Homo sapiens: one gene and its partners. The protein of the gene in region 1 interacts with the protein of each later gene in a pairwise test. Each region holds a gene or a part of one and is shown in the gene's direction. Other genes may lie near its edges.

What was found. Proteins that work in one complex are often made in the same cells at the same time.
Region 2: the proteins of MS4A13 (region 1) and DAGLA interact in binary tests that used the Homo sapiens proteins (3 or more experiments, as listed by UniProt).
Region 3: the proteins of MS4A13 (region 1) and CREB3L3 interact in binary tests that used the Homo sapiens proteins (3 or more experiments, as listed by UniProt).
Region 4: the proteins of MS4A13 (region 1) and VSIR interact in binary tests that used the Homo sapiens proteins (3 or more experiments, as listed by UniProt).

What each region holds. Positions count from the first base shown.
Region 1 is NC_000011.10:60,528,722-60,532,656, forward strand, and holds part of MS4A13 (membrane-spanning 4-domains subfamily A member 13), read left to right. Parts: intron 1-643; coding exon 644-739; intron 740-3,935. UniProt on the Homo sapiens protein: May be involved in signal transduction as a component of a multimeric receptor complex.
Region 2 is NC_000011.10:61,721,891-61,725,390, forward strand, and holds part of DAGLA (diacylglycerol lipase-alpha), read left to right. Parts: intron 1-968; coding exon 969-1,070; intron 1,071-1,543; coding exon 1,544-1,682; intron 1,683-3,500. UniProt on the Homo sapiens protein: Serine hydrolase that hydrolyzes arachidonic acid-esterified diacylglycerols (DAGs) to produce the principal endocannabinoid, 2-arachidonoylglycerol (2-AG).
Region 3 is NC_000019.10:4,156,631-4,160,130, forward strand, and holds part of CREB3L3 (cyclic AMP-responsive element-binding protein 3-like protein 3), read left to right. Parts: intron 1-364; coding exon 365-665; intron 666-3,033; coding exon 3,034-3,152; intron 3,153-3,500. UniProt on the Homo sapiens protein: Transcription factor that may act during endoplasmic reticulum stress by activating unfolded protein response target genes. Activated in response to cAMP stimulation. In vitro, binds to the cAMP response element (CRE) and box-B element.
Region 4 is NC_000010.11:71,753,021-71,756,520, reverse strand, and holds part of VSIR (V-type immunoglobulin domain-containing suppressor of T-cell activation precursor), read left to right. Parts: intron 1-1,054; coding exon 1,055-1,162; intron 1,163-3,500.

The sequences.
Region 1 (3,935 bases):
GTACCAATATTATTCACATAACTAACCAATCGGATTTGTAGTTGAAAATATCTTTCTGATAGCAACAGAAGGGAATCTGTTTTATTTATCCCAGCAGTCACAATCACCTTATGCTTCCAAGTTAAATGTTCTTTGAACTCTTTTTGAATGTATTAATCATTTTAAATGATATTAGAGCAATATATATGTGAGAGTTTTATCACCATGTATGTAAATTTAAGAAGGGTTGTGATTAATAATAGCTGTTTTAATAGAAAAGGATTGCTTGATAAATCTGTTGGTGGCCATCTTATCATTAGAGACAGGAAAGTCAAATCTTACTAACTGGAGAGTTTAGATAGTGAGCTGTGCCAGCGACTCTGTAAAAGCTGTCAGAAGTGAGACAAGAATGCTAAGCAATGGAGATCAAATGCAGAAGCCACAGATGCTGAATTGAGGAACTGAAAGCTAGGGAAAGTGTAGCAGAGGGCAAAGGAGTAGAAATGTCTAAGGAAATCAAATGGTGAAAGGTTTATCTGTTCTTATTTTCCTTCCTTTTTTTTTTTTTTTTTTTTGACTCTCATACCAGTAGCTCCTTCCATGATCATGTTTGCACTCACTAAAGATAATAGCATTAAGATTTCTCCCTGTTTTTTGGTTATAGAAACTTGGGAGGGAAGTATCACGTATTTTACTGTTCTTCTACGGTTTGGAATTTTCTATTGCACTTACACACTCAATATACAGCTGTTCCAATTTGGTAAGTGTTTACCCACTCTCTGGCAAATCAAAAGATGTTGATTTCTAGTAACTACACTCTATGAGAAGATGAAGTGCACTGATACAAAATATTTAGAACTAATATAAATGGAATGTGTGATATTGCCTTTATTTTTTATTTTTGTTATTTTATAAATAGCATAAAATTATAACAGTAATACATGAAACTACATTTAAAAGCAAAAAGCATATAGAGTAAAAAGTGATTTTTCTTTAATATAGTTCTCATCGTATCCACACATCCAATTCTATACAAAAAAAGACGAATACACACACATTCTCTTTACTAATTGTATGTATTATATTCACATTATTTTGTCACATTCATTTTTTGCAATGATTAGAAATATCTTTCCATTACAAAACATATCTAAATAATGCCTTTTATTGCCTTCATTGTTTTTCTTAGTATTTAGCATTCCCTAATTACTGCATATGTAGCTTGGTTTCCAGTTTTTTCTAAATTATAAACAATGATGCAGTGAACATTTGAGTATAAATATTTTTGCATACAGGACCACTAATTCTTTAGGTGTTTGATTCCTAGAAATGTCATTGCAGGATCAAGTGTAACAACATCCCAAAATGCTATAACAACTCACAAAAGTTTATGAGAATGATTATTTTCTCACAAGCTTAAAAGACTACATATCTAACATTCATTCATTCTTTCTCAAATATTTACGGAGAGCATGCTATTTGCTAGGCATTGTCATAGGCACTAAGGATGCAATGATTAACAAAACAATGGCCTCTCCATTAGGGAGTTTGCATTCCACTGGGGGAGAAAGGCAATAAACAAACACATAAAATTATAAAATGTCAAGAACTGAAAAATGTTATGAAGTAAAATAAAGCAAACTAAGGAGATAAGGCAAGATTATTTTATGTAGGATGGTCAAGGAAGACTACTATGATCAACAACTGATTGAAATACAGAAACAACTATAAGACTACATGGTAAAAGGATTTCTGAAGAGAGGGAATGAGTTGCATTTCCAGAATGGCTGATTGAGGACATGGTAACTCTCCCTAAAAATGAAATTATAAAACTGAACAAAATTGTCAATGAACAACCTTCTAAAGATTCAGGAAGTTGACCAAGCATACAAGAACTTGAGAAGTGTTTATTTAAGAAAATCTACTGGACCTCAGTAAGAACAGTGCATGTCTGTGGCATGTTAGCTTGGGACTGTTCCCACTCTTCCCACCTGATATGGTTAGGCTTTGTGTCCCCACCCAAATCTCATCTTGAATTGTAATCCCCAGGTTTTGAGGGAGGAACCTGATGGGAGGAAACTGGATCATGGGGGCAGTTTTCCCCATGCTATTCTCATGATAGTGAGTGAGTTCTCATGAGATCTGATAGTTTTATAAGTGTTTAGCAAGTTCCTCATTCACTCAGTCTTCTTTCTCCTGCTGCCATGTGAAAAAGGTCCTTGCTTCCCCTTTGCCTTACGCCATCATTGTAAGTTTCCTGAGGTCTCCCAAGCCATGTGGAACTGTAAGTCAATTAAACCTCTTTCCTTTATAAATTACCCAGTCTTGACAAGTTTGTTATAGCAGTGTGAAAACAGACTAATATACTACCCCACCCTCAGATTCCGTTACGCAGAAGTTTACCTTGGTGGGTCAGACTGTGAGGCCCAGCAGCCTCATTGCTTGAGATGACTAGTTTTATTTGGAACAGAGCTCAGAAAGTTCCAAGACCAAAAGCGTTATTAAAACAACAGTAATCCCAGTGACAAACAAGCAGATAAGGCCAAGGTCACTCCTAGCCTGACTAAGATCACAATACTTGTTGGGGCAAAAAATTTACTAGCAACCAACCAGAAACTCAACAGAGAAATTTGAAGAACAGGACAGCCACAGTGGACCTTGATAACTTCCTACTTTTCCCCTGTAGTCTGGAAGAATATAAATATGTGCAAAGCTATACACATACTAAGGAGACAGGAGAAGGTCCTAGTGAGCCCTTGGTTGAACAAGAGGCCTTGCAAAAATAAAGTAAAAGCTGGGGCAACCTCAACTTTGAATATATTGCTCAAGCTACACTGATTCATTGGGAAAGGGTAGAAGTCTTACTGGCTCAAGGTGTCTAATACTTTCCTAGAGCTTCTATAACAAAGCACCACAGACTGTAGCTTAAACAACAAACTTATTTTCTTACAATTCCAGAGGCTAGAAGTTCAAGATCAAGGTGTTGGCAGGGTTAGTTTCTTCTGAGGCATCTCTCTTTGGCTTTCACTTGGCTGTCTTCTCCCTGTGTTTTCACATGGTCTTCTCTTTATTTGTCTGTGTCCTAGTCTCTTCTAAGCTCACCAGTCATATTAGATTAGGGCTCATTCTAATTACCTTATTATAACTTCATTGCCAGTTAAAAGACCCTATTTCCAAATACAGTCACATTCCAAGGTACTGGGAGTTAGGACTTCCAGTATTCCAAGATACTAACCACTGGTATTGCTAACCACCACTCCTGGGAAATGAGGCAATCAGAATCTAAAATTGCTACCATATATTATCTAAAATGTCCAGTTTTCAACAACAAAAAGTATGCAAATAATAATAGTTACCCATAGGGTTCAAAACAACACTTAATAGACATAGCGTCTTTGAGCAAGGGAAGAATAAATGTTGGACTTAACAAAGAAAGGCTTCAAAAATTAGTAAAGTAGGTTGGAGGAGCCAAGATGGCCGAATAGGAACAGCTCCGGTCTACAGCTCCCAGCATGAGCGACGCAGAAGACGGGTGATTTCTGCATTTCCATCTGAGGTACCAGGTTCATCTCACTAGGGAGTGCCAGACAGTGGGCGCAGGCCAGTGTGTGCACGCACCGTGCGCGAGCCGAAGCAGGGCGAGGCATTGCCTCACCTGGGAAGCTCAAGGGGTCAGGGAGTTCCCTTTCCGAGTCAAAGAAAGGGGTGACGGACGCACCTGGAAAATCGGGTCACTCCCACCCGAATATTGCGCTTTTCAGACCGGCTCAAAAAACGGCGCACCAGGAGACTATATCCCACACCTGGCTCAGAGGGTCCTACGCCCACGGAATCTCGCTGATTGCTAGCACAGCAGTCTCAGATCAAACTGCGAGGTGGCAGCGAGGTTGGGGGAGGGGCGCCCGCCATTGCGCAGGCTTGCTTAGGTAAACAAAGCAGCCTGGAAGCTCGAACTG
Region 2 (3,500 bases), 1.2 Mb from region 1:
TTGAACCCACGCTGTCTGGCTCCAAAGTCTGGTCTCTGAGCTGCCACACTGCTGCCCGTGCAGCTGGGGCTTTCCAGGCTGCCCCCATGAGGCCAGCAGATCTCCTTCTCAGCCACCACTCCATACCCCTCCCCTCCAGTCTCAGCCCCTGAGGGGCCTGAGCTGGATGCAGACCAGCTGCTGGGCCCTTCCTCTCTCCTCCATCAGGTTCCAGAGGCCTCTTGCTGGGAAATAGTTTCCATGAAGTGAACACGCTCTCATCTAATTTTTGCACAGTCCTATGACATAAATGTTGTCACTCCCATTTTACAGATGAGGAAATGGAGGCTCAGAGAGATTAGGAAACTTGCCTAAGATGTGTCTGATTCCACAGTTCAGACATGATTCTGAGATCCTGATAGAATGAGGAAATGGGCCAGGCGCGGTGGCTCATGCCTGTAATCCCAGCACTTTGGGAGGCCGAGGCGGGTGGACCACTTGAGGTCAGGAGTTCAAGACCAGCCTGGCCAACATGACGAAACCCCGTCTCTACTAAAAATACAAAAATTAGCTGGGCCTGGTGGTGGGTGCGTGTAATCCCATCTACCCTAGGGACTGAAGCAGGAGAATCTCTTGAACCCAGGAGGCAGAGGTTGCAGTGAGTCAAGATCACACCATTGCACTCCAGCCTGGACAACAAGAGCAAAACTCCATCAGGGATGCCCCGGGGACTTGAGAGCACAGAAGCTAGGAGAGGTGGTGGGCACATTGCAAGCGGTCATTCAGGGGCCAACAGGACCAAATGGTGACAGGACGGGCTTGGGGCCTGGGAGGCGGGGGGTGGGGGGTCTGCTAATGGCCCGCTGCCTCTGCCTTTGCTACTGAGCTGGCTGAAAGCCCAGCGATAGGAAAGGCCAGGCCGGGGTTCTAGGCCCTTCCCTGGCATGCAAGTGGCAGCCATCCTTCAGCCAGGCCTGCTCTCCTTGCAGCCATCCTGGTGATCGAGTTCATCTACGCCATCGTGGGCATCGTCTGGCTCACTCAGTACTACACCTCCTGCAACGACCTCACTGCCAAGAATGTCACCCTCGGTACGTCTGGGTGAGGCCTGCTGGAGCCTCAGCAGCCCCGGGGGCACAGGGGACGAGATCAGTTTAGAGAGGAAGAAGCTTGGGCATTGCCAGAGGGCAGTGCCTTCTGTGGGGGCACCAGCAGGTTGGCTGGGCGAGACTGCTTCCCTCACCCTTGAGGCCTGCCAGCTACCTGGTCTGGGGTGGGCTGCAGCAGGCACAGAGCTGCTCAGGTCAAGCCGAGGCTCCTCAGCACCTCCTTGGAAACCCACAGAGCTGCCTGCTCTGAGCCAAGAGTGGCCCTTGGGGTTGTGGGTGGGCAATAGGGTGGCCACGTATGTGGCCAGAGACTGGGACCAGGGGCTTTGGAGCCTGGCTTTTGTCCCCAGAAGCATTTGGGGTTAGGGAGGCTCCAATGTCCCTTTCTTCAGAGCGGGTGAGCCAGAGAGGTGTCCCCAGCGCCCCTACCTAATGCCTCCCACTGCTGCCCGCAGGAATGGTTGTCTGCAACTGGGTAGTCATCCTCAGTGTGTGCATCACTGTCCTCTGCGTCTTCGACCCCACGGGCCGCACCTTTGTCAAGCTGAGAGCCACCAAGAGGAGGCAGCGTAACCTGCGGACCTACAACCTGCGGTCAGTCAGCGGGCTGGGTGGGCAGTCCCAGGGTGGGCTTTGCTGTCTGGTGAGCAGAGGTCTCCATTCTTCAGAAGGCTACCCCAGGCCTCCCAGACTGCATGCCAACCTCGTGTGAGCCGTGGGCATTAGTCAAAGGGCTTAACTGCTCCCTGCCTCAGTTTCCTTGTCTATAAAGTGGGAATAATAACAATTCTTGTCTCATGTTGTTGTGAGATTTAACTGAGCTAATACCTGCAGAGTGACTAACACAGTGCTCACACTGGGTAAGTGCTCGGTTAATAGTAGTTGTTGTCATCATTGTCCACTGCTGATAATAACAATGGTAATAACAGTGAAGCCAAGCATTGCGTGTAGTAAGTTACAAGTCCACCACACAGCTGTCAACTTCCCCATAATATGGGTGGAGAAACTGAGGTACAGAGAGATGATGGGACTTGCCTGAGGTTACACAGCTAGAAAATGGTAAGGCTGGGAACTAGCCCAGGCAGTCTGGCCTTAGAGTCCTCGCTTAACTAGCTATTAAATTAGGCTAGGCTGCCTCTAGGATTCAGAGATTGGGAGAGGCAAGTCAAGGAAAGCTTCCTAGAGGGGGTGAGTTTTGCATGATGTTTTAAAGATGGGGGAAAGTGTGCCATGGCAGACAAAATGAGGGAGGGCATCCAGGTAGTGTCACAATAATTTGTTTGTTGAAAGAAAAAGAGAGGGGCTTCCAGGGTGGGTCCCAGTACCTCCTGTTAATGGGGCTTCTACAGTGCATTATGTAAGGAGCTCCCCATGCCAAGCCCTTTACGCAATTCATCCATTTAATCCCTTTGTGAACCCCGGCATGGTTGTGAGATCCATTCTACAGATGAGGAATCCAAGTCCCAGAGAGGGCAGGTCACCTGCCGTGGGTCTTGCTGCTGGGGTGCAGAACTGGCACCACACCTGCAGCCCAGAGCAGCTGGCTCAAGCACCTGGGGAGCAGGCTGTCTGGACCCCCGCTGCCCGGCAGGAATTCTCACCGTCCCACCCTCCTGCACTGCTGTGTTCGGCTCCCCGTGGACCTTCCACGTCAGCTCAGCACTGCAGCCAGAGCCACACCCGTGCCTGCTGTGGCCACGTCCCAGCCCAAAATGTCAGGTCTGGGAGCCAAGGCCCCAAAGCCCATATTCCCTCCCAGCCCAGCTGGCCACCACCACCCATCCCACAGTGCTCTGGGAACCCTGCTTGGCCAGCACACTGTCCCTTCATGCCCCAGAAGGTGGGACATTGGTTTAGGATGTACAGCTGTCCAAGTCCCTAAGAGCCAGCAGGTCCCCAGAGTAGCAATTCCCTGCACCCTTCCCTACCTGCCTCCCGTAGCCCTGGAAGACCCTGTTGCCCTCCTTCTCCTTGTGGCCATTTGCCTTATGAAGCCAGGGTTGGAGAGCGGGAAGCGGTCCTTAGACACACGGAGGAGCCAAGAGGCTCAAAAAGGGCCTGGCCTGTCACTACAGATTGATGTTAAGTGCCTTGAATGCATATGAGGGCCACCCTTGCCTTCCTCTCCTGACCACCCAGCATCAGGCTTTTAAGGGGCCGCACATGGCACAAAAGCAAGCTAGCCCCTTCTTGCTCGGTTTGGAGGTCTGCACTTTTAATGTTGGATCTGTTATCTTTATGCTCAACACACTGACTGCAGACATCCAGCCTAGGAGGAACCTCTGTGAATAACTGGCCCATTGCTCTGCCTTTGGGTACAGACTCCTGGAGACCCTGATTCTCCATCTGAGCAGCCAGACCCACTGGGGATGGGGTTGGGGGGTGAGAATAGACAAGGGCAACCATGTGGGT
Region 3 (3,500 bases), on another chromosome or scaffold:
AGCTGGGACTACAGATGCCCGCCACCACGCCCAGCTACTTTTTGTATTTTTAGAAGAAATGGGGTTTCATCATGTTGGCCAGGCGGATCTCGAACTCCTGACCTCAAGTGATTCGCCCTCCTCGGCCTCCCAAAGTGCTGGGATTACAGGCAGGAGCCACTGCACCTGGCACTGGCTGGGATTTTTATGCTATGTTACTGCGTTTGAGCCTCAGCAGCCCCGGGAGGAAGAAGCAGTAACTCATCTTGGAGAAGGGAAGGACACCTAAGGCCCAAAGAGGGTCACTGGTTTCCCTGGGGCCACACACTAATCTAAAAAGAGTGAGCACTTCCTAATTCCTACTACCCCTCCCTGTCCACCCCAGCAGGTCCTGCCAAACCCCGACTCTGACGACTTCCTCAGCTCCATCCTGGGCTCTGGAGACTCACTGCCCAGCTCCCCACTCTGGTCCCCCGAAGGCAGTGATAGTGGCATCTCCGAAGACCTCCCCTCCGACCCCCAGGACACCCCTCCACGCAGCGGACCAGCCACCTCCCCCGCCGGCTGCCATCCTGCCCAGCCTGGCAAGGGGCCCTGCCTCTCCTATCATCCTGGCAACTCTTGCTCCACCACAACCCCAGGGCCAGTGATCCAAGTACCTGAAGCCTCTGTGACCATAGACCTGGGTGAGTCCTGCTGTGTCTCTGCCCACCGCCCTCACCTTGTTCCAGGGCCCTTCCTGTAAGTGAGGAAATGGAGGCCCAGAGAGGGCTGGCATCTTGTCCAAGGTCACACAGCAATTTGGAGCTGGGCCCAGACTCAAACTCAGGACACGTGTCTCCCTTGGCTAGGTGTTTCCATGCTTTCACGTGGATGCTATTGGGAGCCCATTTTCCAGATCGTGAAACAGTCCTGTCAGGTTGAGCAATGAGCTAAAACCACAGAGCTAGGATGCAACCCCGGCAGGTGGCTCAGGCACCAGGCATGGTGCTGACAAGCACAGCCCAAAGTCAGGGTCTTGCCTTCTACGTGTCTGTACCCCGTGCCTGGTTCCTAGTAGATTTTTTTTTATTTTTTATTTATTTTTATTTTTTGAGACAGAGTTTCACTCTGTCACCCAGGCTGGAGTAAAGTGGCGCGATCTCGGCTCACTGCAACCTCTGCCTTCCAGGTTCAAGCAATTCACCTGCCTCAGCCTCCTGAGTAGCTGGGATCACAAGCATATGCCACCATGCCCAGCTAATATTTATTTTTTAGTAGAGACGAGGTTTCACCATGTTGGCCAGGCTGGTCTTGAACTCCTGAGCTCAGGTGATCTGCCCACCTCAGCCTCCCAAAGTGCTGAGATTACAGGTGTGAGCCGCTCCACCCAGCCTGTAGATGCTCAATAAAAGTGCATGAGGTTACCAGGTCCTAGGTTCCAGGGTGCTCCTCCTAGACGTGGGGAACAGCAGATCAGTAATGATTTACTCTATTGATTAAGCATTCCCGGCGGGCCAGGCAGAGCCCTGGCTGGAGATACTTGGCCTCTGGGTGGCCTTTGTCCCTTGACCCTTGCTATGAGCTCTTCTTGGTCCCATTGGAGAGTTGACAAAACTGAGGCTCAGGCCCGGAGCGGTGACTCATGCCTGTAATCCCAGCACTTTGGGAGGCTGAGGCAGGCGGATCACTTGAGGTTAGGACTTCAAGACCAGCCTGGCCAACATGGTGAAACCCCATCTCTACTAAAAATACAAAATTAGCCGGGCATGGTGGGGGCCACCTGTAGTCCCAGCTACTCAGGAGCCTGAGGCAGGAGAATCACCTGAACCCGGGAGGCGGAGGTTGCAGTGAGCTGAGATCATGCCACTGCACTCCATCCTGGCTGACAGAGCCAGACTCTGTCTCGAAAAAAAGCCAAAAACAAAAAATGCTGGGCACAGTGGTTCACGCCTGTAATCCCAGCACTTTGGGAGGCCGAAGCGAGCGGATCACGAGGTCAAGAGATCGAGACCATCCTGGCCAACATGGTGAAACCTCTGTCTCTACTAAAAATACAAAAATTAGCTGGGTGTGGTGGCAGGCGCCTGTAGTCTCAGCTACTCGGGAGGCTAAGGCAGGAGAATCTCTTGAACCTGGGAGGTGGAGGTTGCGGTGAGCCAAGATTGCCACACTGCTCTCCAGCCTGGCGACAGAGCGAGACTCCGTCTCAAAAAAAAAAAAAAAAAAAAATCTGAGGCTCAGAGAGGTGAAGTCACTTACTCAAGGTCACACAGCCCTGCCCAACCAGGATTAGAACCAAGGGTTACCTGACCCAAAGTTTGTGTGCTGGGACAGCATGCCTACTGCATGCCGGCTACCAGGAGGGGACAACCAGAGGTGAATCAGACCTCGTCCCTGCCCCTTGGGTGAGATAACGCCTGGCTGGCTGCAAATCTAGCCTGTAATTCTGTGTGATAACAGCCACTCCCTTTTGAATCAGCCGGTGTCTCCTGACAATGTCCTGTGTCTTCCTCAGCCTTGTGGGACGGACAGAACCAAGCCCTGTTGAATTTGGGTCCCCATCTTTTTTTTTTTTTTGAGATGGAGTCTCGCTGTGTCACCCAGGCTGGAGGGCAGTGCCACATTCTCAGCTCACTGTAACGTCCACCACCCGGGTTCAAGTGATTCTCCTGCCTCAGCCTCCCGAGCAGCTGGGATTACAGGTGCACGCCACCAGGCCCGGCTAATTTTTGTATTTTTAATAGAGATGGGATTTCACCATGTTGGCCAGGCTGGTCTTGAACTCCTAACCTCAGATGATCCGCCTGCCTTGGCCTCCCAAAGTGCTGGGAATACAGGCGTGAGCCACCATGACTGGCTGGGTTCCCATCTTATAGCAGAGGGGAGACCGAGTCACTAGTGAGGGCTGCCCCCTTCAACTCAGGCCTTGGGGACTCCAAACTCTGGCAGAAGTCATATGAATGTTGGGATTAATCATGGGAGACTTGGTGGAGGAGGCGGTTAGAGGCTGGAAGCTCAGGACTCCCCCCGTCTGACACTCTCCCTGTCTCCGTCCCCACCTGCCCTGGTCAGAAATGTGGAGCCCAGGAGGAAGGATCTGTGCTGAGAAGCCGGCTGATCCGGTGGACCTGTCCCCACGATGCAATCTCACCGTGAAAGACCTCCTCCTTTCGGGCAGCAGTGGGGACCTGGTGAGCACCCCCACACCCTCCCATGGGGCGTTGGAGCTGGGAGGGCTGCTCGGGTTCGAGGAGCCTAAATATCCCCGTTTCAGAGACTGGAAAACTGAGTCACAGAAAGGCGTGGAATTTGCCCACAGTTAGAGACCATTCCAGTCCTGGGCTCACTGTCGCCTGGGCTGGGGTGTCTTCCTCTGTAGTACTTAGTAGTAACAATAGCAACAACAACTAAAAGCTAAAACTGGCTGAGTGTGGTGGTTCACACCTGTAATCCCAGCACTTTGGGAGGCCAAGGCAGGCAGATCGCTTGAGCTCAGGAGTTTGAGACCAGCCTGGGCAACATGGTGAAACCCCATCTAT
Region 4 (3,500 bases), on another chromosome or scaffold:
GACCGCTAGGAATTTACTACAGATTTCCTTGCTGAGTGAGCCAGGCTGCGTGCACAAGTTCATTGCTACATTATTAGTTATGCTGAAAATGGAAACAACATGTCTACCAACAGGGGACTGCTTCAATAAATTTAGTGGGAGCCATGTGATAAAACTCTAAGCAGAATGAGGCAGGGGAGACAGAGAGATGTCCAAGCTGTGCTCAGTGGGAAAAGCATTGTCATATGATGCTGCGTCTGCTGTATTTGCAGGGAATATAACTAGGACCATAACACAAAAACCGGCACACAGGGATGATCTCTTCAGAGGGGGTCTTGGTACAAGGGGAGGAGGAGATTCGAATATTTTTTAAACTTGTACTTTTTTTGGTAGTTTAATAAGTTTAAAATTGAAAAACATTGTACAAGGATTCACGTTTTTCTAGTTCTCACCCCGGGTGTTTCTCCTGTGACTTGTGTGGTGAGATCAAGGGGTTCTAGAGGCCCCATCCCAGAGCTAAGGAGTCTCTGGGATGAGTTGGGGCTTTTTATCTATTATGATAAAACATATATAATGTAAAATTTGCCATTTCAACCATTTTAAGCCTACAGTTTGGTGGCATTAATTACATTCACAATGTGCAACCGTCACCACTGTCTATTTTCAAAACTTTCATCACTTAGGCTTCTTTTGACCTTGAGCTCTGTGGCATGGGGTCTGCGAAGGCCCTGCTCTCCCTTTTCAGAGAACAACCTGTAGCCAAGGGTGTTCCAGCTGTACCTTGTGGGCTGGGATGAGGACTCTGTTCCCTCTCTTGCCTGGAGCTGCCTGAGCTGTAGGTGACAGGTCTTGTTTCTGAGTGCTCCAGGGGCATAGGGCGGCAGGCACAGGGCTCTCTTTGAAAGGAGAACCGCCTTATCTTCCATGCCTCTGTAGGTTGCTGGGGGTCTAGCTGTGGGACTCTGGGGAAAGGCGGGTCTCCTGCTTCCTGGCCTTCCCTCTCTGAGCCTCAGTTTATGCTCAGGAGGAGCAATGGGAATGGGGCTTCACCTTGGCTACCTCTCTGCCCTTTCAGACATCACGGCTGCAGCCCTGGCTACGGGTGCCTGCATCGTAGGAATCCTCTGCCTCCCCCTCATCCTGCTCCTGGTCTACAAGCAAAGGCAGGCAGCCTCCAACCGCCGTGAGTATTCCTCCCTGCCTGGGGTGGGTGGACGGTGCGAGTGACCTGCTCCAGCCCCCAGTTCAGCCCCTGGGATTCGCAAAGGCACGATGCAGGCACAATTCCTTTTCATTTGAGAGTTGGGAGCAGCTGCACTTCCCGCCAGGAGCTGGGCGAAATGGCCGAGAGAAAGGAGGCATGCCATTTCCGGGGGCCAAGTGCCCACCAGCCCCTTTGGCTCCCAGGCAGTGCTGGCTCGGCACTCAATACATGTCTTCTGAATGAATGATCATATGCAGTAGCTCAAGTTGCTTTATAAAAGCAAGTTGCTGCCACTCAGAGATCCTTGGGGGACCTGTTTAAGGTATGGGCGTGCTTGTTTTGTAATTAGTAGCAATTGTTGGGACAAAAAATGATCTTTGGAATATCAGAAGTGGAAGGGGTCTTACAGACAACTTAGCTCAACCCTTTCTTTTTCCAGATGAGAAGGCTAAGATCAGTGGGGTTACATAACTGACTGAATGTTACGTAACTTAGTAAGTGGCAGAGCTAGGACTCAATCTCAGAGCTTTCAACGCATGCTCTTTCCAGGGAATAGAAGTCCACCATATAATAAAAATGCTCTCACTTACTCCTCATTGCAAGTCCAAGAATTTGGTCCTACCATTGTCCCCATTTTACTGATGGGCAAACGGAGGCACAGAGGGGTTAAGTAACTTGCCTAAGGAACCACACAGCAAATAAGTGGTGGGGCTGGGCTTTAAGTCATGGGCACAAACATCTTTCACCTCCCACCCTGGCCAGGTGACAGTGCCCCTTGCCTAGTTCCTGACCCTGCCCTTGAGTCTTGGTTAGTCTGAGTCCTCCAAGAAGGGGCTAGGGAGTTTTTTACCCTTGCCTCCCCTCCCTGGCCTCTTCCCGTCTGCCTGGCTACAGAGGTAACTGAGAAAGGATTGCTCTGGTGCCAGGTGGCTTTTGGCTCGCAACTTATTTCCTGTGGCCGGCCCTTAACAACTTGTCATCCCTCCCTCCCCTCATTCCCGGGGGCCCCCACGTGAAGCCCCATAGTGGGTCACTCGGGGGCTGTGGCCACCTCACCCTTGCTTTCAGAACTCCCCTATTCCTCTCCTAGAACACACCACAACCTACCTGCAGGAATACCCATGGCTGGGGGTGGGTGGGGGCAGGTAAAGGGCTTGGAACAGAAGAGCAACGCTGGGCAGCAGGGCAGGGGGAGCAGGTGTTGCTGTGCCCTCCCTGGTGGAAGGCTGGCCCAGAGAGCCTGCTCAGGAATGAGGCACTCTCAGGAAAAAAAGAAAAGGAAAGGGCTGGGAGCCTTGAGGACGGCAGTTTGCTGGAGAGGCCAACAGGTGTGGATTTCCATCCTGCTTTGGACTGAGCCTCAGTTTCCCCAGCTCTAAAATGGGACCAACAACCCTCACCCCAAAGGGTGGCACAGAGGATGAGATGAGGGAATACCCGTGTGCACCTGCACGAAGCCTGACCCATGAGTCGGCTGTAAGCAATAGCCATGGTTTGAATAGATTTCAGGAACTTTTGGGTAACTTCCCTGTGTTTGTTCTGTTGTTGTGCCCCTCCCCCACCATCTGTTTCCCCATCGTAATCAGCAGTAAATCTCCTTAAAACGAGAAGCATCTGTGGGAGGACATGGGGTGCTGCATGAAAGAGGGAAGTTGGGGTCACTGCATCTAATTGGTGGCCAGTTTGGGGGGTGGGGTGTCCCAAGGCTGAGGCAAGCGGCAGCAACTTGGATGAGAAGCAGAAAGTGAGTGAAGTGGCTGGGAAGTGATCGGGGACTTGCACCTTGTAAGGTTTCCCTGAGAGATGTCCCCTAGAATGCCACCCTATTAGGCAATGTAGGGGATAGGACAGAGAGGACCAGGAGCCCTCTAATTAGGAACTGACCTTAAACACTCCCACCCAGTAAGTCATGGCTAAAGACCAGAACCTGGCAAATGTTCAAACAAGAGACACCAGTTAGCAAATTCAAGAGTTGACCTTTGCTCGATACTTAAATCCTGAAGGTCTGACACTGTGTAAGTCAAGCCATAGGAGAAAGCGCTGGCTGCCTTTGGTCTCCTGATGGCAGATAGCGTTCTTACACTCCTGGAAAATGCAGATAGAGTTTCATTTATCAGTCGTCAAAATGGGCCCCTCATGGAGGCCCCATCTGCTGGACAGACACGCAGATCGCTTGCTGGACAGCACCCATGTGAAAAGAAATGGAGTCCGGAGCTGTGCAGGGCCCTCCTGGGCTCGCTCCTGTTCCCTGCAGGGCATCTGCCAGCAGGGGCAGGGATGTTGTATGGGGAAGCCTTCCCTTCCATGACCAGCTTCT